Linked DNA regions of Homo sapiens. The protein of the gene in region 1 interacts with the protein of each later gene in a pairwise test. Each region holds a gene or a part of one and is shown on either strand. Other genes may lie near its edges. The genes, in order: NME7, THAP10, SHTN1, ISY1-RAB43, ZNF343, ARHGAP9 and PROSER3.

What was found.
Region 2: the proteins of NME7 (region 1) and THAP10 interact in binary tests that used the Homo sapiens proteins (3 or more experiments, as listed by UniProt).
Region 3: the proteins of NME7 (region 1) and SHTN1 interact in binary tests that used the Homo sapiens proteins (3 or more experiments, as listed by UniProt).
Region 4: the proteins of NME7 (region 1) and ISY1-RAB43 interact in binary tests that used the Homo sapiens proteins (3 or more experiments, as listed by UniProt).
Region 5: the proteins of NME7 (region 1) and ZNF343 interact in binary tests that used the Homo sapiens proteins (3 or more experiments, as listed by UniProt).
Region 6: the proteins of NME7 (region 1) and ARHGAP9 interact in binary tests that used the Homo sapiens proteins (3 or more experiments, as listed by UniProt).
Region 7: the proteins of NME7 (region 1) and PROSER3 interact in binary tests that used the Homo sapiens proteins (3 or more experiments, as listed by UniProt).

Annotation. Positions count from the first base shown.
Region 1 is NC_000001.11:169,322,412-169,326,666, forward strand, and holds part of NME7 (nucleoside diphosphate kinase homolog 7), read right to left. Parts: intron 2,090-4,255; coding exon 1,982-2,089; intron 873-1,981; coding exon 706-872; intron 1-705. UniProt on the Homo sapiens protein: Possesses an intrinsic kinase activity. Displays 3'-5' exonuclease activity with a preference for single-stranded DNA. Does not seem to have nucleoside diphosphate kinase activity.
Region 2 is NC_000015.10:70,885,934-70,889,433, forward strand, and holds part of THAP10 (THAP domain-containing protein 10), read right to left. Parts: intron 1-3,500.
Region 3 is NC_000010.11:116,928,254-116,932,508, forward strand, and holds part of SHTN1 (shootin-1), read right to left. Parts: intron 1,750-4,255; coding exon 1,596-1,749; intron 1-1,595. UniProt on the Homo sapiens protein: Involved in the generation of internal asymmetric signals required for neuronal polarization and neurite outgrowth.
Region 4 is NC_000003.12:129,091,456-129,095,710, forward strand, and holds part of ISY1-RAB43 (ISY1-RAB43 protein), read right to left. Parts: intron 3,715-4,255; coding exon 3,570-3,714; coding exon of another isoform or gene 3,531-3,569; intron 1,139-3,530; coding exon of another isoform or gene 1,059-1,138; exon of another isoform or gene 1,045-1,058; intron 1-1,044. Other genes in the region: RAB43 (ras-related protein Rab-43), read right to left, coding at 3,531-3,714. UniProt on the Homo sapiens protein: Component of the spliceosome C complex required for the selective processing of microRNAs during embryonic stem cell differentiation. Required for the biogenesis of all miRNAs from the pri-miR-17-92 primary transcript except miR-92a.
Region 5 is NC_000020.11:2,491,604-2,495,858, reverse strand, and holds part of ZNF343 (zinc finger protein 343), read left to right. Parts: intron 1-334; exon of another isoform or gene 335-444; intron 445-1,814; 5' UTR 1,815-1,963; coding exon 1,964-2,081; exon of another isoform or gene 2,082-2,108; coding exon of another isoform or gene 2,109-2,166; intron 2,167-2,281; coding exon 2,282-2,340; intron 2,341-3,033; coding exon 3,034-3,160; intron 3,161-3,774; coding exon of another isoform or gene 3,775-3,827; exon of another isoform or gene 3,828-4,010; intron 4,011-4,255. UniProt on the Homo sapiens protein: May be involved in transcriptional regulation.
Region 6 is NC_000012.12:57,473,563-57,476,866, forward strand, and holds part of ARHGAP9 (rho GTPase-activating protein 9), read right to left. Parts: exon of another isoform or gene 3,090-3,304; coding exon 3,028-3,089; intron 2,893-3,027; coding exon 2,802-2,892; intron 2,605-2,801; coding exon 2,509-2,604; intron 2,370-2,508; coding exon 2,271-2,369; coding exon of another isoform or gene 2,214-2,270; intron 2,054-2,213; coding exon 1,921-2,053; intron 1,837-1,920; coding exon 1,729-1,836; intron 1,412-1,728; coding exon 1,313-1,411; intron 1,142-1,312; coding exon 1,064-1,141; intron 915-1,063; coding exon 861-914; intron 615-860; coding exon 480-614; intron 147-479; coding exon 41-146; intron 1-40. UniProt on the Homo sapiens protein: GTPase activator for the Rho-type GTPases by converting them to an inactive GDP-bound state. Has a substantial GAP activity toward CDC42 and RAC1 and less toward RHOA. Has a role in regulating adhesion of hematopoietic cells to the extracellular matrix.
Region 7 is NC_000019.10:35,760,719-35,764,973, forward strand, and holds part of PROSER3 (proline and serine-rich protein 3), read left to right. Parts: intron 1-1,300; coding exon 1,301-1,428; intron 1,429-1,534; coding exon 1,535-1,638; intron 1,639-4,135; coding exon 4,136-4,218; intron 4,219-4,255.

The DNA.
Region 1 (4,255 bases):
TCCTTTAGACATACCGTACCTCCAGACATTTCGATGACATAAATTTATTCATTCATATATTTAACAAACTTTTGTGGGTCACACTCTGTGAATAATTTACTGTTTGAGGTATCACTACAACAGTTTTTAGGGATACAGTTATGAATAAGATACATCAGTCTCCCTGTATCATAATTTCTTTATATGGTTTCTTTTTTTTTTCCTTTTTACAACACTCACATTGTCATTTTTCAATTGATCCGTTGGTCAACATCTATTAGATATAAATATATATATATATATCTGTTAACAAAACTTGACAATAGGCAGCATTAGTTACAAACAATCTAGGCAAAAACCTCCTGGTCAACTAGATCAAAGATCATCATTTGAAAACAGGGAGAAAGTGGAAAAAGGAAAGAATAGATCATAGATTTTAAATTGTGATTCATTAATTCGTTCAGCTAATACAGACAAGGTGCTTGCAATGTGGATGGAGATGTGCTAAGTGCCACAGGAGACATAAACATGAATTAAGTCAGATGAGACATGCACAACTATGGTATTATCAATTTTTTTTTAAATTGAAAAAAAGAAAAAGAATGAAGACAACCATTTTCCAGGTCCTATCCATCCTCATATGGTTACATACTCCCAGTCTTGATTCAGATTGACTTTGAACCCAAAGTTAGAGCATGTAAAAAGATTATATAATTGTTTTCTTACTTTTCTTTCCTACTGCCCAGCTGGCGAGCTGTATATTGATCCCCATAGTCAATTAATACCAGTTGTCGAGAAAAGACATTCACTTTGTTGCCTATAAATAAATCTTCCAAGTGCAGGTTATCATATTTGGTCCGCTTTAAAAAGGTGCGATGATTCTTTACATCATGCTAGAACCAGACACAACAATATAACAAACAAACAAAAAAAGTTATGAATAAGGAAAGTTAATCTCATCATAAGGTAGAAATAATTCTTAATTCTGTCTTATCAAAGATAGGTTATATTCTGTTTCTTTTTTGTTACAAATATAAATCATAATTTTTAATAACTTCCATATTTCCTAATCCAATCTGGTAATAACATAAAAGCTTCTTATTACAAATTTAATACTCTTAAAAACCTGAATAGAAAGATTTGTTTATTACCAAATCATTTCAGCAAAGTAGTCCTTACAAAATGCTAAAGAAAGAGTCATACACCCAAATTTCTGCTTTCTTGTGTACACAAAATCCCAATACCAAAAAGATCTACTTGTTAAAATTGTGTTGCCAGTGAAAGAACACAAAGAAACAGAAGTCTCTTAGCTTGAGCCTCTTCAATTTGACTTTTTGTAGCAATAACAGCTTTCAATAATGAGGACGTATTTATGACCATAATAATCCTTATCTATAATCACTTGTTTATTTCTTATCCAAAACATGAATAATCCCATTTCAGTCTTTTTTTTTTTTTTTTTTTTTTTTTTGAGACAAGAGTCTCATGCAGTCGCCCAGGCAGGACAGGCAGGAGTGCAGTGGCGTGATCTCAGCTCACTGCCACCTCCACCTCCTGAGTTCAAGCTATTCTCCTGCCTCAGCCTCCCGAGTAGCTGGGATTACAGGCATGTGCCACCACACCCGGCTAATTTTTTGTATCTTTAGTAGAGATGGGTTTTCACCATGTTGGCCAGGCTAGTCTCGAACTCCTGACTTCAAGTAATCTGCCTGGGTCGGCCTCCCAAAGTGCTGGGATTACAGGCATGAGGCACCGCGCCCAGCCCCCACTTCAGTCTTCTAACAACAACAACAAAAAATTCCTATTTTTGACATTAAAAATAAAGGCACAAGTTAACTTCTTATATTGGAATTATAATGAATAAGTTTAAAAAGAATTTCCATATGTATATATACACACACACATACATATAAATGTGTTTTTAAAAAGCAATTATATAAAAGGCAATGGTTCCCATGTTCACCCCCTTTGCCAACATTCAAGCAAAGAAAGGCTTATTTACCATTTCAACAGATCCATCCCCTGGGTAAAATAAAAGCTCATAACGTCGAAGAAGTGAAGCATTTGGATCATACCACTCTGCAATGAAAACGAATCTTTCACTATGATTCTGCAAAGAAAGACAGAAGAATTTTAACACTAACATATAAAGAACAAGCACTCTTCTGTAAGTCACACAAAATGAAATTACCAATATGCAAGAAACAAAATTACTTCTACCTATTATATTGAATGTTTCTGCTTTTCAACAAAGTATCAGTTATCAACACACCCTCAGCAATATTTCCTTTCAATTTCTCACTAAATACCCTTAGATATCTCAAAGATGACTTATGGATTGCTTTTTACTTTACAGCCATCTAATCATCCTGAGTAAATTAACGTTTTCTGAGAACATGAGCTCCTGATTTTACTATTGTAACAATTCAGTCCTTCTGAAAGCAAGTTTACATACAGACTATCAATAAACTAATATAAGAATAAATTTCTGAGGAGAGCTCTCAATTATATGAAGTTTTGACTTCCCTAAATTTGAGAATCTAGTAGTATCAGAATATTACCATTAAAATTATAGCAAACATTTTTTTTTCCTTAGTAATTTCATATGATAGTATCTTTTTATAGAAATAGAGAATGTGTTAGTCTAGGACCTCTGAAAATGAATGTGAAGACAAGATTGAACATACAAGAATTTCATTAAGGAAAATTCCCGTAATATAAAATGATGAGGGAGCCAAGGAAGACTAGAAAAGCCGATAAAAACAATAGAAGTTTGACACAGAGTGGTGGAGAGATGCAAGGAAGGTTAAGTGGAATCATCCCACATTGCTACACCCTCTAAGAAAGGTTCTGTAAGCCCATCAGGAAGTGCTAGAGCCAGGTGACTCCCAAGGACAGGGAGGGGCCAGCTTTAGTATCCCTGCTCCTCTCAATCAGTGGCTGGGAGCAGCCTTTGGGAAGCAAGTGCTCAGCACAAAAGCAGCAGTGGATTTCAGAGAACAGCAGCTGGGACCCTTGGTCACTTAGGTTGCCTGTAGTTGGAGGTCTGTGAAGTACACTCTTAGGGCTACCACAGAGAGCAAAAAATGAAAAAAATAAGTCAAAGATGGGTCCTTTTCCCTTGACTATTGAGCAGGACTTCCCATCATATATGTTAGTAAAAATACCCTCGCCCCAAAGATCTTCATTATAATAAGCAAATAAAAGCATAGGGAAGAAGGGAATCTAGGAGTTTTATTGCTAATTCTGGATTTGCCATCTGATGCTCTGGTTAGGGAAAATTTGGGGGTTCTTTTTAAGTTAATAATTGACTTATAAATTCTAATGGTAGAAGTTGTGTGTCTAATGATGTTTATAATATATCCATAAACTATAACGTAGATGACACTTTTATTTTTAAGACACTTTTATTTTTCCCACAATCATCCAAAGACATATTTAAACCATGCTGATTACTCAAGAGAAAATAAATGTAAAATAAGAGACATACTATGACATTTGTAAAAGCCTTTCATCATATATATTTTTCATATTGATTATAACAATACAGCTTTTTTGAGTTTAGGTTTCACTGTGCATTCTAGTATTGTACTCACCTACAAATAAAAATTTAAATATTAGTAGATTATTAAAATTTTTACTATCCATAATAAAATATTTATTTAAATACATAATTGAAATGTTGCCTTCACTAAAATAAATATAAAATAGAAGAAATGACACATCTAACTAAAGCAAATGAAAAATCCACGAAACCTGGTACTTCCATTTATCCATGTAGCCTATCCACCAAACCTGCCAACCACACTCTTTAATTCTGAATTGGGCAGCAGAATTTTGCACTATACTCTATCCAGAAAAGAGTTTTAATACAAAGAAAATAAACTGAGGAACTGTTGCTTCTGGCTATGACAAAGTAGCTCACAGCAAACCAATGCTACTTCTAAGAACAACTAGAAAAGTAGGATATCAAAGATTTGGAGAGCTTTTAAGGCAGCCAGGATCTGAGGATCCAAGATCCAGAAAGACAGGAAGCCCATTGAAGTGAAACCAACATTCATTGCGTTGTCTTTACTCGTAAGACATGTGCTGAGTCTCAAGTCAAGCAGACAAGTGACTGAGAAGCCTAAGAAGCTGGTAGAGGGAGCCCACCAAGGGACAGAGAAACAGGTACAAAAGTGAGCTGAAACCTGTGCTTGTTCAGTAGAGCTTTTGGAAACGAACTCCCAAGCTAGTGCTGTTTCCTCTGTGGGAAAAGGTTTATTACTCCAAGTAC
Region 2 (3,500 bases), on another chromosome or scaffold:
TACAAGTTTCAACAAATTTCAAAAAATTAAGTCCATATATTGCATTTTCTCTGGCAGTAGTGTAATTGACCTAGAAATCTATTGCAAAAATTTAACTAAAAAATGCCCAGAGATACGGGAATTAAAAAATATACTTCTAATTAACCCACGAATAAAAGATAAAATCACAATGGAAATTAGATATTTTATACTAAATAATAAAAATACTGCATACCTAAAACTTGTAAGATTCAGTAAAGCCATGTTAGGTGGGGACTTATAATCTTTAATGCATATATTAGGATAGGAAAATTAATTGGGCTTAATTTAGGTTAGAATTATTAATATCATGCAAAAGGTATTCCACAAAATATCTCTAACATAGCCCCCTCTCAGGACCCAGATTTTCCTCTATCAACACCACTTTACTGAATTCTACATTTGTGAAATAAGCTTGTGAAACTTAGCTGCACCATTTAACATTCACCATAAAAATTCTGAAAATCAATGATATAATTTAACTTCTTAAGAAGTTAAAGACAGAGCAGTGGACAAAATTTTAAAAAGCAGAGGAAGGGAATAATGAATAAGTGAAATAAATGAAAAAAAAATTCTAGAGAGATCAACAAGGCAAAGTTTGTTCTTTGGAAAGACTAATAAAAATTGATAAACCGGTGGGGTGCGGTGGCTCACGCCTGTAATCCCAGCACTTTGGGAGGCTAAGGCAGGTGGGTCACGAGGTCAGGAGTTCAAGACCAGCCTGGCCAAGATGGTGAAACCCCATCACTACTAAAAATACAAAAATTAGCTGGGTGCGGTGGCAGGCACCTGTAATCCCAGCTACTCGGGAGGCTGAGACAGGAGAATCGCTTGAACCCGGGTGGCAGAGGTTGTAGTGAGCTGAGATTGCGCCACTGCACTCCAGCCTGTGTGACAGAGTGAGCCTCTGTCTAAAAAAGAAAAAAAAAAATCGATAAACCATCTGGTGAAGCTGATCAAGAAAAAATGAAAAAGCAAAAATTACCTCAGCTCAAACAGAATTTTTTTCAAATACAAGATTATCATGAAGGTTTTGTGTCAATACATTTAAAAATTTAGATGGAACAGACAAATTAAAAAATACTATTAATCAAAATGGATAAACAAAATACTATTTATCAAAATGGATAAACAAAAGAACTCTGAATAACCTTATAACAAAGAAATTGAATCCATCATAAAAAACCTTTCCAAAAGGAAAACTCCTGTCTTATCAATGAGTTCTACCAAATATTAATACCAAATTTATTAATGGATATATGCCATTTTATATAAACATTTCCAGAGAATGAAAAAAGAAGGAACAATTCCAAATCTGTTGGCATAATCTTCATACCAAACCTGAGAAAGGCATTCCAAGAAAGAAAAAAACTGTAGAACAGTTTCACTCGTGCACACAGATACAAAAATCCTAAATATTTTATTTTAGCTAATATTTTATTAAGCAATATGAGAAAGGAATAAAACACTTTGACCAAATTGAGTTTATTTTAGCCATGCAAGTTTGACTCTACATTTTAAAACCAATCAATATAATTTACTATATTAACATAATAAAAATGTTATCCTTAATAGATTCAGAACAACCATTTGATAAAATTCACCATTATTTATAATCTAAACTAGAAATAAAGGGGAACATTTCTTTTTATTACAAAGAGAGCTATAAAAAACTATAGTAAAAATCATAATCAAATGGGGAAATATTAAAGGCTTTCCCTCTGAAATTAGGAATGAGAAAAGGATTCCCCTCACCTCTTCTGTTCCCACACTGTACTGGACATTCAAGCCAGTGCAACAGGAAGAATACGAAATAAAAACACGAATATCAAACGCTTTTCTCAGATGATATTTTTGTACATGTATAAAATTCAAGAGAATTTATAAACTATTGAAATTAATAAGTGAGTTTAACAAGGTTTTTGGATACAAGTTCAACAAAAATTAATTTATCAATATGCACTTATAGATTATAAAATTTAAAATACCATTTATAGTAGCAAAATCAAATAGCTGTGAATAAATCTAATGAAAGATATGTAAGACCTCTACATCAAATGCCACAAAACACTTCTAAGAAAAATTTAAAAACCCAAATAAATGGAGATATATGTTCATGGATTAGAAGAGTCAATATTGTCAATATGCCATTTATTCCCATATTCATTTATGAATTCCATGGAGTCATAATCAAAATCCTCGTGAGTAACTTGTGAAAATTGACAAATCAATTCTGAAATGTATCTAGAAATCTAAAGAGCCCAACATAGTCAAAATATCCACAAACATGAACAAGGTAAGAGGTATTAATCAATTGAATATTCTTAATAAAGCTATATAAGACACTGTGATACTTTTGCTTAGGCAAACAGATAAGTGAAACAGAATAAAGTATGTGGAAACAGACCTATGCATATAAAGGGCACTTGATTTATGACAAAGTTGACATTGCAAGGCCAAGAAGAAATGCTAGTAGTTTCAATAAAAGATGCTGAGTCAAATGGGTATCAATGTTGGGGAAAATGAAACTTAAATCCTACCTCACACCAAACACAAAAATCAATTCTGAATTAGATCTAAATATAAAAAGTAAAAACAACAAAGTTTATTACAAACAGCATAGTAAAATGTTTTAAGTATTAAGAATAAGGAAAATTATTGGTAATTTGGACTACATCAGAATTAAGAACTTCAGTACATCAAAAGACATTATTAAGAACCAAGAGGCAACCCATAGTGGGAGAAGATAAAAACATTTAACTGAAAAAGGACTTCCAGGTAGAATCTATTAAAAATTCTAAATCAACAAGAAAAGACAGACAATCCAACAGAAAAATGGGCTAGATTTAAAAGGGCATGTCACTGAAGGCTACCTAAATATCCAATTAATATTTGAAAAGGTGTTTCCTTACTAATTTCATCAGTAATCGGGGGATGAAAAGCAAAAACATTACTACGCACTCTGCAAATGGACTCAGATGTGAAAGACTAGAAATCCCACGTATAGGCAAGAATGTGGAACAATGGAAACTATCAAACTTGTGGTAGAAGTGTAAATTGGTACAAGTATTTTAGAAAACTATTTGGTATTATCTACTGAAGTTTAATGTAATACTATGACCCAGCAATTCTAGGTATATATCCTCAGAAATGTGTGCACACGTGGACCAAAACACATATACAAGAGTTTATGGTAGTATCACTTATGATAGCCCCAATGGGTAAAAACCCAAATGTTCAACAATAGACAGACAAATTTTGGTATATTCATACAATGGAATACTACATAATAATGAAAATGAACTACTGTTCTATGCAACAATATGGATGAATCTCAAAAATGTAATGTTGAACAAAAGAAGCCAGACACAGAAAATGGCTACAGTATGATTTGATTTATATGAAATCCCCCCCCCAAAAAAAAGCAAACTTGGTTACCTTTGAGGAGAGGGGAGGGGCTGGATATGGGGTGATATAGGGAC
Region 3 (4,255 bases), on another chromosome or scaffold:
ACAGACCAAGAATTAATTTTAAAGATGACATTTAGTAATGAAATTTAATAGCTGCATACTTCTCTCCCCTGCTTAATTTCCTTCAAAAACTGCAAATACTAGAGTCTTTGATTTTAACCAGATTCAGCTTCCTAAATCTGTAACTCAGAAACTTTTTGCTCTTTTGAAGAGATTTCTGGAAATGTATCGTATTCCTTCAAGTCTTTCATGAGGAAGGCATTTTACTAAGCACCAATGATGTGAAAGTGCCTATGAATGGTGCTACAGGAGACGTAACACCTGACTTCAAAGAACTGAACTTAAGTTGATATCACAGGTGCTAATACCTATGAGATAATGGGTAAAAGGTGCTGCATACTGTTGGCACTCAGAGGTAGCTCTCCCCATCCACAGCCATTCCACTTTCCCCGACTGAGTGTACCCTCAGGGATCTGTCCATTTGTATTTACCCTCAACACTTAAATAGGCAGTGTGGGCTATGCTCTCCAAAACTGAGAATCCTCTAGTCTTTTTATGTGCATGCACCTATCCCTCCAAGGGGAATCTGAGTTCTCTGAAGACAAAAAGCATGGTTTCTTTTCTTCTGTATTTCTTATTGTTTCCTAGGATAGGGCTGGGTACACACACAGCAGATAATAAGTATTAATAGAAGGCATTCAGATTTGAACCTTATATATTTCCAGTGTCTGCCTCCTCTATTCATAATAAAGATGGCTTTGGCTACAGGCTACTCTGATATTCACTAAAAAGAATGAAATACTTCTTAATTTTGGATCAATTAAAAAATAAATTATAATCAATTTTCATTGTGGATTAGAAAGCACTGAATGCTTTTAGAAGGAAAAAAGGCCTACATGGTTCTTCTGCATAGGTTTCAAAATTCTAGTATAAAATTAACCAAAAATATCTGAAGTGAATATTGAAGCTATTATAAAGGGAATGTACCTGACTTCTTAAATTACCGACCTTCCAACAGAGACTTACACATATGCCCGTATAGTAATCTAACTCGCACATTCCCGTTAAGCCTTCTAGAACTGAATGAATAAATCTTTTGATTTAAGTATCCCCTGGTGTTTCTAAAGATTTTCCATTTAATAGATATATTGTTGCCCAGTTCATTGTTAGGTACAATATAGAAAGTATTATTTCATGTGTATTATTAGACACCAAAGATGAAGGTAGTATGAACACCAAAGATGAAGACAGTATTTTTAAAAAGTTTAATTCTTTCTAAAAATGCACTCTAAGTGAACAAAATAAAGTACATAATGAACATTCATCTCTGAAGCTCTGAAAAATGCTGAAAAGTTGGTCTTCCTAGGCTAACGGTATCTCTGTGTCTAAATTCTGTATATGATGTTCACAAGGGCTCTAAGTCCAAAAAATTAGTCTAAATATTTTTGAATTATTTAATACAGCAGCTATTCTACTGAATTGCAATGGTTAGAAATTAAGGAATTTCAAAACAAATCTTGGTATTTTTCCACAGCATTCAGTAAATGTTCTAGACTAACTATATGCCAGGTTTTGTACTAGGCATGAGTAATTCAAAGATTAATAGTAAGACATAGTAGCCTACTCAATGCTTTTACCAGAGTGCTTTAAATTTCTGGCTTTCTCTTCAGAATTCTGATATTTCAATTCCAATTCCTTTTTATCTTCCTCTAGAAGCTCCAGTTGCTGTTTGAGGTTGTGTATTTCTTTGTGGAGTGTTTCATTTTCTAGTTGCTCTTCTAATTCTTTGACCTATAAGTTATTTAAAAAAAAAAGACTTTTATGGCTGACAGTTTTTCCTTTGTCAAAGAAAAGAAAGGGAAAAAATAAATATTTCCCTTTGACTGTACTTCATAGCAAACAGATTCCAATCCATCTTAACAACCATGCAAATGCTAGATACAATTAACACACAATCATAAATCAGCTAAAGAGCTGATTTAAAATAAATTTACTGGGGAGTTACGTACCAGACACTTTAATTTTTTTTAAGTTTTATTTTAGGTTCGGGGTACATGTGCATGGTTGTTATATAGGTAAATTGTGTGTCACAGGGGCTTGGTGTACAGGTTGTTTCATCACCAAGGTAAAAAGAATAGTACCTGATAGATACTTTTTCGATCCTCTCTCTCCTCCCACCCTCCATCATCAAGTAAGCCCCAGTGTCTGTTGTTCCCTTCTTTGTGTCCGTGTGTAATCAATGCTTAGCTCCCACTTAGAAGTGAGAACATTTGGTTTTCTATTCCCATGTTAGTTCACTTAGGATTATGGCCTCCAGTTCCATTCATGTTGCTACAAAGGACATTATCTCATTCCTTTTTATGGCTACACCGTATTCCATGGTGTAATATGTACCAGATTTTCTTTATCCAGTCTACCACGGATGGGCATTGAGGTTGACTCCATGACTTTGCTGTTGCATATAGTGCTGCGATGAATATGTGTGCACGTGTCTTTATGGTAGAATGATTTATATTCCTTTGGGCATATATCCAATAATGGGACTGTTGGGTTGAATGGTATTTCTGTGTTAAGTTCTTTGAGAAATCGCCACACTGCCTTCCATAATGGCTGAACTAACTTACATTCCCACCAGCAGTGTTTAAGCGTCCCATTTCTCTGAAACCTTGCCAACATCTGCTATTTTTTGACTTTTTAGTAACAGCTATTCTGACTGACATGAGATGGTATCTCATTGTGGTTTTGATTTTCATTTCTCTAATGATTAGTGATGTTAAGCATTTTTTATATGCTTGTTAGTCACACAGACACTTTAATTTTTAAACATGGGTCACTTTTGTACCCATTTTCAAAAGAAAAATTCAGGTAATATTTTAAAAGACTCCTGGGGGACACAAATTTAGTAATAAGTATCAAAAGTCTTCAAAAAAAAAAAAAAAGGAAAGGCTTTCGATTCAGTAAAACCATTTTTAGAAATTATTTTTTAAAATACTCTGAAATATATTCACTGAAGTGGTTTTTTGTTTTGTTTCGTTTTTGTTTTTGTTTTTGTTCTGAGATAGAGTCTCACTCTTTCGGCCAGGCTGGAGTGCAGTGGCGCGATCTGGGCTCACTGCAAACTTCGCCTCCTGGGTTCAAACAATTCTTGTGCTTCAGCCTCCTGAGTAGCTGGGGCTACAGGCACATGTCACCACACCCGGCTAATTTTTGTATTTTTAGTAGAGACAGGGTTTCACCACATTGGCCAGGCTGGTTTCGAACTCCTGGCCTTAAGTGATCCACCTGCTTTGGCCTCCCAAGGTGCTGAGATTACAGGCGTGAGCCACCACACCTGGCCTGAAGTATTCTTTACAACAGCAAAAAGTTGCAAATAACCTAAATGTCCACCAATATTTTTAGTTTAATAAATTATAGCATGTTTATTCAATGAAATACTATGCAACTTTTAAATCACATAGCTTACTATATACTGACATGAGAAGATATATTACCAATGGAAAAAAAATCAAGGCATAAAATAGTATGCATAGTATGATTCAATTTAAACAAACTATATTTATAAAGGTATATATTTACAGAAAGTTCAGCTATGCACCAAAATATGGGATACTTGGTTAATCTTCTTTAACTTTTGCTGTATTTTAAAAATGTATTATAAGGAGCATATGCTATTTTTATAATTGCAAAAACCATATGCTGTGCTTAAAAGACTGCTGCATCTGCAAGGGAACTTACAGACAGCTAAGAAACATTTTAAGCGACATACAGATGGTCCCCAATTTAGGATGGTTTGAGATAGTTTTTCGACTTTACAATGGTGTGAAAGCGACATGCATTCAATACAAACCATACTTCAAATTCTGGATTTTGATCTTTTCCCAGGCTCGCAATATGTAATAAGATACTCTCTCAACAATCCTCTGCAGCGGCAGCCAGCCACAGCTCCCAATCAGTCACATGATCATGCGAGTAAATAACTGATACTCTAGAGCAGGGTTCCCCAACCCCCAGGTCTTGGACTGGTACTGGTCCATGGCCTGTTAGGAACCAGGCTGCACAGAAGGTTAGCAGCAGGCACGAGCAAGCATTACCGCCTGAGCTCCACCTCGTCAGATCAGCAGCGGCAACAGACTGTCACAGAACCGCGAACCCTATTGTGAACTGCACACGCGAGGGATCCAGGTTGGCCGCTCTTTATGATAATCTAATGCCTGATGATCTGAGGTGGTACAGTTTCATCCCAAAACCATCCCCCACCCTCTTCCCTCCCCAGTCCATGGAAAAATTGTCTTCCACG
Region 4 (4,255 bases), on another chromosome or scaffold:
TGGACACCCCTGGCATGGTCATCTGTCTTTCTTTAAAAAACCTTTTTTAGGCCGGGTGCAGTGGCTCACGCCTGTAATCCCAACACTTTGGGAAGCTAAGGCAGGAAGACTGCTTGAGCCCAGGAATTCAAGACCAGCCTGGGCAACACAGTGAGACCCCGTCTCAATTTACCCAGATCCTCCTAGATGGTATGAGATGACTTCATTACATTCCAAACAATCTGTTAAATTGCTCCTTGACCCAATTTCTAGAATAATTTTTTAAAAGTCTCTACATGGTTGACTTTTGTAATGTGGTTATAAGGAAGACAAAAAAAAAAAGAGTCTGGGCCAAGCGCAGTGGCTCATGCTTGTAATCCCAGCATTTGGGAAGGCCGAGGTGGGTGGATCACCTGAGGTTGGAAGTTCAAGACCAGCCTGGCCAACATGATGAAACCCCGTCTCTACTTAAAAAAAATACAAAAAATTAGCTAGGCGTGGTGGCGGGGGCCTGTAATCCCAGCTACTCGGGTGCCTGAGGCAGGAGTGGCAAGCGGAGGTTGCAGTGAGCCGAGATTGTGCCACTGTACTCCAGCCTGGGCAACAAGAGCGAAACTCCGTCATAAAAAAAAAAAAAAAAAAAAAGTCTGTAAAGATCTAAAATTTCCTTGGTAACCTTAATTGATGTAGCAACCAGTTTCAAAGTGTGAAACTTATTTGGATCCTGATCTCAACAAACTGGAAAAAATAAAACACATATGAATTTTATGGGCAATTATAAATCTGAATACAGACTGGCTATTTTATATTATTAAGGAAATGTCAGTATTTTTAGATGAGAAAATAATATTGCTGTTTTTAAGTGTTTAAATATTTTGTAGGTTCATGCTGGAATACTGCCAGGTGAAATGGTTTGATGTGAATTTGTCTCAATAATCCGAGGGAGGGGAGGTGACATGGTACAGATGAGAGGAGGTTGGACTTCAGTTGCTAATTGCTGAAGCAGGGTAATGGGTACCTGGGGGCTCATTATTATACTATTCTAAGCCAGATATAGTGGCTCACACCTGTAATTCCAACTACTTGGAGGTTGAGGCAGGAGGATTGCTTGAGGCCAGGAGTTCAAGATCAGCCTGGGCAACATAGCAGGACTGCATCTCTAAAAATATATGTATGTATATAAGTATGCATAAATAAATAGATAAAATACTATTTTCATAGCTGTATAAAATGTTCTATAGGCCGGGCGCGGTGGCTCACGCCTGTAATCCCAGCACTTTGGGAGGCTGAGGCGGGTGGATCACGAGGTCAGGAAATCGAGACCATCCTGGCTAACATGGTGAAACCCCGTCTCTACTAAAAATACAAAAAATTAGCCAGGCATGGTGGCGGGCGCCTGTGGTCCCAGCTACTCGGGAGGCTGAGGCAGGAGAATGGTGTGAACCCAGGAGGCAGAGCTTGCCATGAGCCGAGATCGCGCCACTGCACTCCAGTCTGGGCGACAGGGTGAGACTCTGTCTCAAAAAAAAAAAAAAGTTCTATAATAGAATGTTTTTTAATTAATTATTTTTTGGAAGACAGAGTCTTACTCTGTCGCATAGGCTGGAGGACAGTGGCACGATCTCGGCTCACTACAATCTCCGCCTCCCAGGTTCAAGCGATTCTCCTACCTTGGCCTCCGCAGTAGCTGGGATTACAGGTGTGTGCCACCATGCCTGGCTAATTTTTGTATTTTTAGTAGAGATGGGGTTTCACCATGTTGCCCAGGCTGGTCTTGAACTCCTGAACTCAGGCAATCCACCCACCTCAGCCTCTCAGTGTTAGGATTACAGGTGTGAGCCACCATGCCAGGCTGGAATGTTTTTCAGAAATGTCCTGGATAAATGGGAATTGGTGGCTGGGTGTGGTGGCTCACACCTGTAATCCCAGCACTTTTAGAGGTCGAGACGGGTGGATCACGAGGTCAGGAGATCGAGACCATCCTGGCCAACATGGTGAAACCCAGTCTCTACTAAAAATACAAAAGTTAGCCAGGTGTGGTGGTGCGTGCCTGTAGTCCCAGCTACTCAGGAGGCTGAGGCAGGAGAATTGCTTGAACCCGGGAGGCGGAGGTTGCAGTAAGCCAAGATCGTGCCACTGCACTCCAGCCTGGCGACAGAGCGAGACTCCGTCCCCCACCCCCAGCAAGAAAAGGTGGGGAAATGGTTAGGCTACGTGAGGAAAGCTCTGTTCATGCCAAGCACTCCATGTCCTAGTCTGAACAGGCTGTGGAAGGCAGGCCACATGGAACCAGGCACCACCCTCTTCCTGGCTGGAGTCAGGTCCAGGCCCTGTCTGTACATTTGAGTCAGAAGAATCAACCTGTTGGCCCAGCTACTCGGGAGGCTGAAGCAGGAGAATCGCTTGAACCAGGGAGACAGAGGTTGCAGTGGTTTTGCAGATCTTGCAGAACCAAGATCACGCCACGGCACTCCAGCCTGGGTGACTGAGTAAGACTCTGTCTCAAAAAAAAGAATCAACCTGTTGGGGTGAGGACCCCAGGGATAACATAAGAGCTAAAGAGCTTCTCCAGTCCAGGTCTGGGAAGGTTATATAGAAGGAAAACAAAGGTAAACAGCATCCTTCCACAGCAGCAGTTCTCAAAGTGGGATCCTTGGACCAGCAAGGTGGGTGTCACTTGGGAATTTGTTAGAAACGCACATTCATGGGCCCCACCCAGCCCGCCTGGATCAGATGCTCTGGAGGTTGAGGCCCTGCAGCTGCACTTGAAGAAGACTTCTGTGGGATTCTGAGGCACGGAAGCCATCAAGTGTCCCTGCTCTGTGTGCGGCACAACAGAGAAAGCCACAGACTTGAGGTCAGCAGAAGCAAACTCAAAGCCTACATGTGTATGCTCACAGGCCATGTGGACCCGGATAAATCACTGCACTTTTCTGAGCCTAGCCCCAGCCCCTGTCAAATGAGGAGAAGCCGGGGTACAAGAGCTAAATCTTGACACATGTGAAGAACAGCAGAGCAAACTTCAGCTCTCTTTCTTCTTTCCTCTAATTCCAATTTTGAATATAACTTTCTTTTTTTTTTTTTTTTTTTTTTTTTTTTGAGACGAATCTTGCTCTGTCACCCAGGTTGGAGTGCAGTGGCGTGATCTCAGCTCACTGCAAGCTCCGCCTCCCAGGTTCATGCCATTCTCCTGCCTCAGCCTCCCCAGCAGCTGGGACTACAGGCGCCTGCCACCACAACCGGCTAATTTTTTTTTATTTTTTTAGTAGAGACGAGGTTTCACTGTGTTAGCCAGGATGATCTCGATCTCCTGACCTTGTGATCCGCCCGCCTCAGCCTCCCAAAGTGCTGGGACTACAGGCGTGAGCCACCGTGCCCGGCCTTGAATGTAACTTTCTAAGTGATTAGCAGGATCAGGATTTGCAAAACCATGGCTCAAACTCTGGCTGGGACTCCCTCTGAACTCAGGGTTACACTGTGTTTAAAAAGCAGAGGGAGGCATGGACAGGCAGAGTGATGGGATTTGTGGTCCCGAGGAATCCCCAACTCACCGATCAGCAGCTGCACAATGTTGGAGCCCGCATACTTCCTCACATCCTCAATCCAGTGAGGCACCGACAGGAAGGAGCTCCTCTTGGTGATGTCGTAGGCAAGGATGGCCCCATTGGCACTGCGGTAGTAGCTCTGGGTGATGGTGCGGAACCGCTCCTGGCCGGCCGTGTCCCAGATCTGCAGCTAAAGAAATAAGGTTCCTCAGTGAACCCAGTGGCACAGGCTGAACATGGGGACAGGCAGAGTGACCCCACAGACCCACACCCAGAGCTGTGGTTCCACTGGGCTAGGAGGCCTTCTGAGTCCTTAGAAAGCAACTCAATGGCTCAACCTTGTTGGAAAAATGGGGAAGCAAAGGGAAGGTGAGCAGCCCCTGTCCTGGCCCTCTAGGGTCCCCAGGGAAAGATGGAGGAAGGGGTACACTCTGAGCTGACCCAGGTCCTCCGCGTGCCCCTCCGTGTGCCCCTCTCCCCTCAGGACTGGGCCCACTGCTGCGAAAACAGAACCACCAGTGCTCAAGCGGCCGGCGGCTGGAAAGCTGGCTCCAGGTGCACTGCACGGCCAGCAGTAGGCACGGCCAGGTACCCTCCCCTACAAGAGCATCACGTACCCAGCTGTGTGTGAGGCTCCTCCAGCATTAGGGTTCCCTCAGGACTCTACAGCTTGGTGATGAGGACTGTGGGAAGGGTGACTGGTGGTGGCAATGGGCAGAGTCCTCCCATGG
Region 5 (4,255 bases), on another chromosome or scaffold:
AATTCAAACAATTAGCTGGATGTGGTGGCAGGTGCCTGTAATCCCAGGTACTTGGGAGGCTGAGGCAAAAGAATCACTTGAACCTGGGAGGCAGAGGTTGCGGTGAGCCAAGATTGCACCACTGCACTCCAGCCTGGGCAACAGGGTGAGACTCTGTCTCAAAAAAAAAAAAAAGAAAAAAGAAAAAAAAAAGTCTGCACTTAGTACAGATCTTGCTTTATAACTGTTAGCTACAGATACTAGTGTTACTAGGAGAAAGGCTTTGTCAGCTTCAGCTACGTTATACTGCAGGTACTATAGGTTGGCTTTAGCTTTGTACCATGACTTTTTACAGTAGAACCACAGTCCCTCTTCGGACATGCTGTTCTCAGAACAAAAGAAATGGTGGAATTATGCAATGCTTAGAAATGGCATCGTCGCTTTCACTCACATTCATTTTCCAAGGCAAGTTACAAGGTCAAGCCTGATGTCTGGGACAGGGAAGTACCATCCTTTTATAGGGCAACAAATAATTGGGAACGATGATAAAATCTACCACAAAGGCCTCTTTTATTCTAATCACTAGAATTATATTAGCAAAAAGACTGAGAAGCATTTCATCTTACAAGAAGCTTCACAGTTTAGTAAAGACAGTCACGTAAATAGAGAAATTGCAATATGGTATGATGGCCAGGTTGGACAGAAGAGGGAGTGGTCATCTCTACCTATGGTGTTGAGGGATGAATTACAAGAGCTGCTTAGAGACCCCAGCTAGTCTCAGAAGGGTACTAGGCAACAATAGGCCTGTAGCCATTTGGGCTGAAATCCTGGACAGCGTCTGAGGAGCTTTTGAAGGTGGCATAGCTCCTAATACCACCTGCCTTCTTTGGGACCACATCAGTGTAGGACTTTGACTTGGGCCCATCAGGATACACAAATGCACATCTGTGGTAAGGTCATGTGGTAGACATGCATAGCAATGGAAGCTAGGAGGTTATCTCTTCAGAGTAATTGTGAGAACTGGAGCTCTCCCTTAACTAAGAAGGACTGAGTTTTGATCTCCTAAACTCCTCACAATACAGGGACATAGGGATTTTTTTTTTTTTTCTTGAGACAGGGTCTTACTCCTGCCGTCCAGGCTAGAGTGCAATGGCATGATCTCAGCTCACTGCAGCCTCGACTTCCCGAGGTCAGGTGATCCTCCCACCTCAGCCTGCTGAGTAGCTGGGACTACAGGCGCACACCACCATGCCCAGCTGATTTTTGTATTTTTTGTAGAGACGGCATTTCGCTATGTTGCCCAGACTGGTCTTGAGCTCCTGAGCTTAAGTGATTAGCTTGCCGTGGCCTCCCAAAGTACTGAGATTACAGGTGTGAACCACTGTGCCCATCCAAGACACAAGGAACTGAATATAGATGGAACCTTGGGTTGGGGCAGGGGAATCAGAAGCTGAGTTCTGCACGCCCCAGTTGGTCTACAGGAAACAGTCAGAGGCTCTTTCTCCACAGGCATTATGCTATATTCTGTCTTCTCTCTGACTCAGGCTTCAGGTAGTAGCAGAGACTGATCCAAAACATAGAGTTTGAATCTGAGGTGCAGAGGCAGAAGAAGTAAAGTTTGAGAGCTAAGGGAGAGTGGCAGAACACAAGCAGGAGGGCCTAGAAATGAAGGTAGAGTGAATGAAGGTAGAAAATCCAGGGATCCCATGTAGATGGAGACTCCGTGTTTGTTGAATGAGGAGGGTGTGAGAGGACAGGATCCCTGTTGAAGAGGCATAGGCCTAGGGCCCACAATAAAAGCCCCAGCAATAGCAAATTGCTTCTTCATCCCACAGGTCCTGGCTGCAGGGAAACAAGCTGGGCTTTTTATAATTAAGGTTGGAAGAAGTCACCACAGGCAGCAGAACTCCATCTTGAGATGAAATAACATCTACCTGGACCTCTGGCAGAATTTCAAGGCACACACTGGGCTGACTCTGGCGCCATGATGTTGCCTTATCCTTCAGCACTGGGAGATCAATACTGGGAAGAGATTTTGCTTCCAAAGAATGGGGAAAATGTAGAGACTATGAAGAAATTGACCCAAAATCATAAAGCGAAAGGTGAGAATTGTTGAGGGAGCCGGAGGGATGAAGAGGAAGCCAAGGCTCCAGGTTCACCTGAAAATGCTTCAGAGGTCACCTCTGAGTTAAGTGACTACTTCCTTCATCCTAAGGCTCAGAAGAGCTGCTCAGGGAGCGTCATGGTGGGGGGTGGGGGGTGGGGGGGTCTGGTTTCTCATAGCTTCTTTTTCTTTCCCTAGGCTTGCCTTCTAATGATACTGACTGCCCCCAGAAAAAGGAGGGAAAGGCCCAAATAGTGGTGAGTTGGGGTTACATTTTTTTTTTTTCCTGAAGTGCTGGCTCATTTTCCAGAGAATAGACATATATTCTCTTTCTTGGGAAAGGAAAAGGCGGTCAACATCTGGGTAGATGAGTGAAGCATTAGGCTTTCTTGAAAAAAGTTGTCAAAGCACATAGCAAAGACAGGGATTTTACAGATCCCATTTAGTAACCTGAGCTTTTAAAAAATGCTCATTCCAGACCCCATCTGTTCACTCCCATTTTTCTCTGTAATCCAAGTTTTCTTCCATTCTCTCCTCTAAATCTTTACCACTCCCTACTGCCCAGCACAAGCCCCAAGTCCATGATGCTTTTGTTCCTTCTGCAGCCCATTCTCTGCTGTTTCATCTCTGAATTCCTTCATTATGAATCCTCAAAGTCACTGTCTTAAACACAGCCTGAGGTTTACAAATTAATTCACAAATCATTTCTCCGGTGAAATCATATATGTCAAGGGCCTAGAATGTGTTCTGTGCTCAGTTATGCTCCTCACAGGTTTTAACAGAAAGCCAGGCAGACAGTAGTGCTCAGAAGAACTTCATATGGAGAACCATATATTCTGACGAATTACATCAACTTGCATATCCAGGCTCTCCAGGGTCACCAGCTGTGCTCCACACACAGGGAAGATTGATGGTGGCTTGCTATACATTAATTTACTGGTTGTTTGTAGGTACCAGTTACATTCAGGGATGTGACTGTGATCTTCACAGAAGCAGAATGGAAGAGACTGAGTCCAGAGCAGAGGAATCTATACAAAGAAGTGATGCTGGAGAATTACAGGAATCTTCTCTCATTGGGTAAGGCTGTGTTCTTTCCTTTCCTTCATTAATTCAGTAGAGATTTACTGATCACCTAATATGTACCACAAAAAAATGTTCTAGATACTTACAACACATTAGTAAACAAAATCGTAATCCCTGCCTCCATGGGGCTTACTTTCTAGTGTAAGGAGACAGACAACAAACAAAAAGCCTCATATACAGGGATATTATAATATGGTATGTTAAAAGGTGATAAGTGCAACATAGTAAAAAATAATGAAATAAGGCAGGATAAAGGGGTATTGGGTGTGATAGGGTGGCTGGCTGAAGTTTAAAACTGGGTATTTGAAATCAGTGAAGAAGTAATATTTGTCTAAAGACATAATGTGGTGAGGAGGTTAGAACTGTAGGTATCTAGTGTAAGAGCATTTCAGGTGAAGGGAATTATTGACACGAAGACCTTAATGAAGGGATGTACCTGCCCAGTATATGAAGCTGCAAGGAGGCAAGCAAGGCTGGGGGCATGGTTTGCAAGGGGGAGAGATGCAGCTCTGTGACATAAGTTAAAATTAAGAGTCAAGTTTATTGTGGTTTGGGGGTTTCATAAACTATGTTTTTTTCTTTTTCATTTGTTTACAAACCTAAACGAGGTCAGGAGATCGAGACCATCCTGGCCAACATAGTGAAATCCCATCTCTACTAAAAATACAAAAATTAGCTGAGCATGGTGGCATGTGCCTGTAATCTCAGCTACTTGGGAGCCTGAGGCAGGAGAATCACTTGAACCAGGGAGTCAGAGGTTGCAGTGAGCCGAGATTGTGCCGTTGCACTCCAGCCTGGTGACAGAGTGAAACTCAGTCTGAAAAAATAAAAAAAAATAAAAAAATATTTAAATCTGGGTTGATAAATGTTATCAATTGCAACATAACTCTAGATCAGGGGTTGGCCAACTTTTTCTGTAAAGGGCCAAACAATAACTGTTTTTACAGGTGATAAGCCCTCTGTAACAACCCTTAACTTGCCATTGAGTTGCAGCCATAAACAGTATGTGAACGGATGAGCATTGATATGTTCCAATAAAACTTTCTTTATAGACACTGAAATTTGAATTTAATATAATGTTTATGTATC
Region 6 (3,304 bases), on another chromosome or scaffold:
CCTTTCCCCAGCATGAACAAAGAGGTTCTGTCTTCCTGACCTGCATAAATGCTCCAGGAGGTACCGTAGAGTGTCATGGTTGGGCTTTGGCATTGAGCCTATTAATTCTTGTATCTGAGAGAGGCACTGCTCTGATTCGGAGAGTGCTAGAGAGAGTGATGGGAAAGGCATGGTAGTAAGGTTAGGGAAGGTGCTAGGACAGGATGGGTAAATGCACTGCTCTTTCCCACAGGCATGGAAGACATCATTAATCTAGCACAGCTTTCTTTTTCACATAGCCCAACTATAGCCTCATAATTCTTTTCAATTCAGCCCTCTAAACATTCACAAAAAAGCAACTGGAGTAGGCACCTGAGTTGAACATTATTTTCCATCTCTAAAGTCAGAATGGGAAAGAAGAGTATAAGGGAACCTCTATTCTATTATTTACCACCCGTGTCCCCCACATCAAGGGTTCTTTCCAAAGCTCCAACCCTTACCAAGGGCAGCACGGAAATGGGGCAGCAGCAGTGGTGGCACCAGAGGCTGGGGCAGCTCCCGGAGAAAAAGCTTCAGGGCTCCGGTGACCACATGAATGTCATCCCACTCAGTACTGTCCAAATCTAACCGACCTTCTGGAGGGAGAAGGAGGTATAGGGGCTCATGAAGGGCCAGAAAGATTTAGAGACTGAGAGATTAGAAGTTCTGGAGAAATCCAGTCAAAGCAGACTATAGGAATGCCTAGAGGGTCTGCAGTGGGGCAAGGTAGCTAAGGTGGGGATGAGGACAACCCTCCCAGGAATAGTACATGGGGGTTTCCACGGGAAGCAAAGAGGATATGTGGAAGTTTTAGGGATCTGAAGGGTCTTCCATGTAAGTACCTTGTCCTGGCTGTTCTGGGAACACATACCTCCCATCGGAGGTGACCGCACGCTCTGCAACATGAATGAGGAGAGATCAGGAGCTAAGACATACACTTCCAGCCTGACGGCCTCTCTATTCTGCCAGCTTCCTCATGTAGGACCGCCCATGGTTCTCAGGCAAGACATTCTTAGTACAACCACTGGCCCACAAGCCTTCTCACCTCTGTCCACCAGAAAGCGAAGCTTCTGGACCACTGCCAAGTTCCCGCTCACCCGATAAATGCCATCCACATCTAGACCTGGGAGATGAGGAAGGAGTAGATAAGGACTGCTGCTTGAAAGTGTGTGTGGTGAGGGATATAAGGGTGGAGAGAAAAAGGGCAGTAGGAAGACTAGGTAGAATGGGGGAGGCAGAAAATTCTAGGCCTTAGCCTGTTGGAAGAGGATTCTGGGGTCTCTGAGAAAATGACCTCTTTTATCCACAGCAGCAATGCAGAGCCGCAAAAAGCTGGGCACCGTGTCTCCTTCCCGCTGGCAGAGTGATTCCAACTGGCAGCCGAACACCTGGTCTGGGGAAGTAGAGTGAGGCGGGAAGCCAGTGCCAGCGTCACTCACAGGAGCTCTTCTCAGCATAGGTCTTTATCCTTAAGTGAGGCTGGTCCTCCTGGCTGCCTGTGCCAGGCCTGGGCAAGGAAATACACTCCACCTCCCTTCCCCTGCTTCAAACAATCTGGCAAAGGGGTACAGGTCACCCCAGCTTCTCCCCTAAACAATCTGGGGTAGTGGGAAAGCAGCAGTCACAGAAGGTTGTGGTCTAGTTCTGGGAAGCTCTACTCTGAGCCTCGCTGGAGTTTTCTTATCCATGAACCTGGCCCAGCCCCCTCACCTCGGAGCAGACCCCGCTCCTGCAGGCTTTGTAAGGGCGGTCTCTTCGCGATGAGCCGCTTTAGTTTGTTGCGCACGCGGTTCTGCTCGGTGCCTTCGGGCCCCCGAACTGCAGGAGGCAGGTAGAGCGGGGCGTGAGCGCCCGGGAGCCTCGCTGCGCTCCCGGACTCTCCCTCCCCAGCCCGCGCCTCACTGGAGCTCCGGCGGCTGCTGAGGCGCAGCAGCGGCTTGGACACCAGCTCCGACTCCTCTTCTTCGTCCTCCCCGGCGCTCAGCTCCGCGGGTCCAGAGCCCGACAGACGCAGCTCCAGGGGGTTCTCCCGATCCTAGACCCGGGGCGGGCCGTGTCGAAGGTGAGAGAGGAGAGAAATCTGTATCCCTAGCTGGACTCTGACCCACTGCCGGGGTCCCACATCCCGGCCCAGGCAAGGGCTCTCCACTGAGCCCACCCTGCCCCCAACTGCTCCTGACTCCTATCGTTCCTACCCCACTCCCTTGGTCCCGGCCGGTCGGAGCCTCCCTCCGGGCCTCCACCCATCTAACCAGCCGCTCGATGACAGTCCGCAGCGCGCGGTGCCAGGCTCGCAGCTCTGTCTCGTGGTCCGACTGCAGCAGGAACTCGTGGCCAGGGATCGTGCGGATCTGAGGGCCAGGCAAGGAAACGCTCGGGTCAACGGGAAGGAGTATAATAAGCAGGGAGACCTAGCGGGAGGCCTGCGCGGGAGATTGGGGGCGCCCTCGGGTCGGGTGGGGCCTTGGGGACGCGCGGGAGGGCGCTCACGTGCAGGACGTTGCGGCGGCTGGACAGGTGGCGGCCGTGCGCCAGGGCCGCCCCGCGCAGGTCCACGCTACTTTCGGGCCGGCTACCCGCTGGTCCCTGACAATGAGGGAGGAAACTGAGGCCACGGTGTTGTTTCCTTCACTGCTTCCCTCTCCCCGGTGGGCTGTGAGGAGGTGGGAGGCTTCCTCACTTCTTTACTTTCCTCTGCACCGCCCTCCCCGCTGCCGCCCCCACATTGGCGTGAGGCGGTAGGCAGCGCCCGCACCCATCCTGCGCCTCTCGCTCACACTCACCCAGCCTGAGGAGGGCGCTGTCGGCGGTGGCTCTCGGTAGAACACCAGGCTGTTACCCGTTAACACCACCCAAGACGGGCCCCAGTTCTTCCTGCGGGGACAGAGAGGGGAGGTAGTGGTAGCGAACAGGTCATTCTAGAATGACACGAGGAGGGTGCTCTTCCAACACCCTGCTCTACCCTATGGAGTTGACAGCCCAGGCCCTAGCTGTATTCTGGGTTCTCACCTGAGCTTGCGCCCCCCTTGGGCAATCTTGGTCATGTTGAGCAGACCCGACTTTTCCACCTCCTGGGAAGTGGAGGGAATGGGATCTGTAAGTCACCCTCGCCCTCCATAGTGGCCACGGCTTTCCCTAGGGGGTCTCCCAGGAGTGAAGTCCCTTAAAGTTGCTGGGGGAGGGCTGGGTAGGAGGATATTCAGAAAGAGGAAGATGTTTATGTGGAGCAGGAAAAGGGGGGAGGGGGGGCAGGGAGGATCTTGGCCTTCACAAAGAAATGGGAGAT
Region 7 (4,255 bases), on another chromosome or scaffold:
TCAGGTGATCCACCTGCCTCAGCCTCCCAAAGTTCTGGGATTACAGGTGTGAGCCACTGCCAGGCCTAAATTGGGCATATTAATAGTACACATCCCCTAGGGCTGTTTTGAGCTTTCAGTGAGTTACTATATATAATGATCTCTAGCAGTGCTTCTCACATAGTCACCACTTAGATTTGTAGAATACAGGTTCAGCTGCTGTAACAAAGAGTCCCAAATTAATTATGGCTGAAACAAGATAGAATTTATTCCTCCCTCACCTGCAGTCCAGGCAGAAGCCACCAGGGATGATGTGGCAACCCGTAGTTGAGGTGTCAGGGACACAGGTTACTTCTGTCTTGTTGCTGTCCGAACTCTAGGCCGTTGCCCTTTCCTTCATGGTGCAAAATGGCTTTCAACCACATCAGCTTTCCAAAATCACATTTCATACCCTGTTTGTCAAGAACTTAGTCACGTGGTCACAAGGCTACAAGGGTACCTGGTAAATATAGTCCATAGGAGACTGGCTGTGTGCCCAGCTAAAAGTTACATTCCTGGCTGGGCACAGTGACTCATTCCTGTAATCCCAGCACTTTGGGAAGCCAAAGTGGCAGGATCCCTTAAGCCCAGGAGTTCCTGACCAGCCTGGGCAACATGGCAAGACCCCGTTTCTACTAAAAATACAAAAATTGGCAGGGCTGCAGTGGCTCACGCCTGTAATTCCAGCACTTTGGGAGGCCAAAGTGGGTGGATCACCTGAGATCAGGAGTTTGAGACCAGCCTGACCAACATGGTGAAACTCCGTCTCTACCAAATTAGCCGGGCGTGGTGGTGCATGCCTGTAATCCCAGTGACTTGGGAGGCTGAGGCAGAAGAATCACTTGAACCAGGAGGCAGAGGTTGCAGTGAGCCAAGATCACGCCATTGCACTCTAACCTGGGCAACAAGAGCAAAACTCCGTCTCAAAAAATAAACTAATTAATTACAAATAAATAAATAAATAAAAATACAAAAAGTAGCCGAGTGTGGTGGCATGCACCTGTGTCCCAGCTACCCAGGAGGCTGAGGAGAGAGGATTTCTTGAGCCCAGGAGTTGGGGGCTGCAGTGAGCTATGATTGCACCACTGCCCTCCAGCCTGGGTGACAGAGCGAGACCCTGTCTCAAAAACAGTTATGTGACTATATAAGAAAGAAAAGCAGATATTGAGGGATAGCTACCAGGCTCTGCCATGGTGCTTGGTAAACGTTGGCTGCTATAATTATTCTTATTATTATTTGGCTCTCCTCACTCCACTCACCTCCTATCCCCTGATGTTCACAGGTATATAAACAGGTTCCGCCAGGCTCAGCCCACCAGTCGAGAGGAGCGCCAGCCTGCAGGCCCAACCCCAGCTGACTTTTGGTGGCTGCAGTCTGACTCTCCAGACCCCAGCAGTCAAAGTGCAGCAGGTACCTCTTTCAGTGCCATCCACTACTCCCACCCCTAAACCTTTGCTGATCAATGCCCCCAGCAGCCACTCCTCCTGGCCCTCATACCTCAACTGGGGCTTCTCAGCAGGAGCCAACAAACCAGAAGGAAGACCCCATACAGCTGTCCCTACTGCGGTCAACGTGACCAGTGCATCCCATGCTGTGGCTCCCCTTCAGGAAATAAAGCAGGTGACATCCCCATTCACTCCCTCCCTTGGGTGCCTGAACTGACAACACCAGCCCTAGGACAGAATTAGAAGATCAGGAGCAGTGGCTCACACCTGTAATCCCAGCACTTTGGGAGGCCAAGGTGAGAGGACTGCTTGAGGCCAGGAGTTCAAGACCAGCTTGGGTGACATGGTGAGATTCTGCCTCTACTAAAAAAAAAAAAAAAAAGAGAGAGAGAGAGAGAACCAGGTGTGGTGGTATGTACCTGTAATCCCAGCTACTTGAGAGCCTGAGGCTGGAGGATGGCTTGAGCCTAGGAGTTCAAGGCTGCTGTGAGCTATGATCATGCCACTGCACTCCAGCCTGGGCAGTAGAGCAAGACCCTGTCTCTATTTAAAAAAAAAAAAAAAAAAAAAGCCTGGGCACCGTGGCTCATGCCTATAATCCCAGCACTTTGGTAGGCTGAGGCAGGCAGATCACGAGGTCAGGAGTTCAGGACCAGCCTGACCAACATGGTGAAACCCCGTCTCTACTAAAAATACAAAAATTAGCCGGGCGTGGTGGTACACACCTGTAATCCCAGCTACTCAGGAGCCTGAGGCAGGAGAATTGCTTGAACCCGGGAGACGGAGGTTGCAGTGAGCCAAGATAGCGCCAGCGCACTCCAGCCTGGCGACAGCAAGACTCCATCTCAAAAAAAAAAAAAAAAGAATTAGAGCTGATCCCCATTTCAAGGAAGCTAAAACAGAAAAGGAGGATTTGCTGGCTAATGTAATTGAGAAATCCAAAAGTAGATGTTTCCAGATATGCCTGGATCCAGGTGTTTGAATAATGTTGGGAGAGACCCAACTCTCTCTGGGCTCCATGCCCCCCCTTTTTTTTTTGATACAGAGTCTTGCTCTGTCACCCAGGCTGGGGTACAGTGGCGCCATCTCAGCTCACTGCAACCTCCGCCTCTCGGGGTCAAGCAATTCTTCTGCCTCAGCCTCCTGAGTAGCTGGGACTACAGGTGCATGCCACCACACCCAGCTAATTTTTTTGTATTTTTTTAGTAGAGATGGGATTTCACCGTGTTGCCCAGGCTTGTCTCGAACTCCTGACCTCCGGCAATCCGCCCACCTCAGCCTCCCAAAGTGCTAGGATTATAGGCGTGAACCACCAAGCCCGGCCTTTTTTTTTTTTTTTTGAGACGGAGTCTTGTGCTGTCATCCAGGCTGGAGTGCAGTGGCGCGATCTCGGCTCACTGCAAACCCCGCCTCCCAGGTTCACGCCATTCTCCTGCCTCAGCCTCCCGAGTAGCTGGGACTACAGGTGCCTGCCACCACGCCCGGCTAATTTTTTTTTGTATTTTTAGTAGAGATGGGGTTTCACCATGTTAGCCAGGATGGTCTCCATCTCCTGACCTTGTGATCCACCCACCTCGGCCTCCCAAAGTGCTAGGATTACAGGCATGAGCCACCGCGCCCGGCCTTCTTTTTTTTTTTTTTTAATTAGATAGGGTCTTACTCTTAGGCTGGAGTGCAGTGGCACAATCATGGCTCACTGCAGCCTTGAACTCTTTGCAACCTTCGCCTCCTGAGTACCTGGGACTACAGCATGCGCCACCATGCCCAGCTAATTTTTTGGTTTTTTTGTAGAGATGGGATCTTACTTTGTTGTCGAGGCTGGTCTCGAAGTCCTGGGCTCAAGCAATCTTCCTGCCTCGGCCTCCTAAAGTGCTGGGATTGCAGGCGTGAGCCACCACGCCCGCCTCTGTGCTTCTCTTTTTTTGGGCTCAGTCCCAGGCGGGCTTTCCCCTCACAATAGCCAGGATGGTCCTTGGGGTCTCTAGGCTCCCATGGTCCTGGCTCAGTGACTCCAGTGGGAAGTGGGGGCTTTTCGAATTGCTCCATCAGAAGCCCCAGGGCTCACTGTGATTCACTCATCCTTGAGCCAACCACTGTGAACCAGAGGATAGAATGCTCTGATGAAGCAGCTCTGATCTGGGAGGTGGGATCCATCCTCCTCCAACCATGATTTGTCCATGAAAGGTGCTAATCCACCGGGCGCGGTGGCTCACGCCTGTAATCCCAGCACTTTAGGAGACTGAGGTGGGCGGATCACCTGAGGTCGCGAGTTTGAGACCAGCCTGACCAACATGGAGAAGCCCTGTCTCTACTAAAAATACAAAATTAGCCGAGCGTGGTGGCGCATGCCTGTAATCCCAGGTACTTGGGAGGCTGAGGCAGGAGAATTGCTTGAACCCAGGAGATGGAGGTTGCTGTGAGCCGAGATCGTGCCATTGCACTCCAGCCTGGGCAACAAGTGAAATTCAATCTCAAAAAAAAAAAGAAAAAAAAAAAGGTGCTAATCCAAAGGGGAAAACTGGGTCTCTCCTCCCTGAGGAGGAGGAGCAGATCCTAAGCTGGCATGTGAGGTTACCAAGGGCAGTACAACCTGCATTCCAGGCCCTCTGTTTAGAACCCCCTTCCCAGCAGCCTTTGGGTTGGGGCTGGCGTCTGACCCTGTCACCCTGCAGAACCTCCACACATGGAACTCATCCCTGCTGGACCTGGAGACGCTGAGCCTACAGAGCAGAGCTGCCAGGCTGCTCAAACGCAGGTGCCCGCACCCCTGCCCCCATCACCCTTCCTACTGC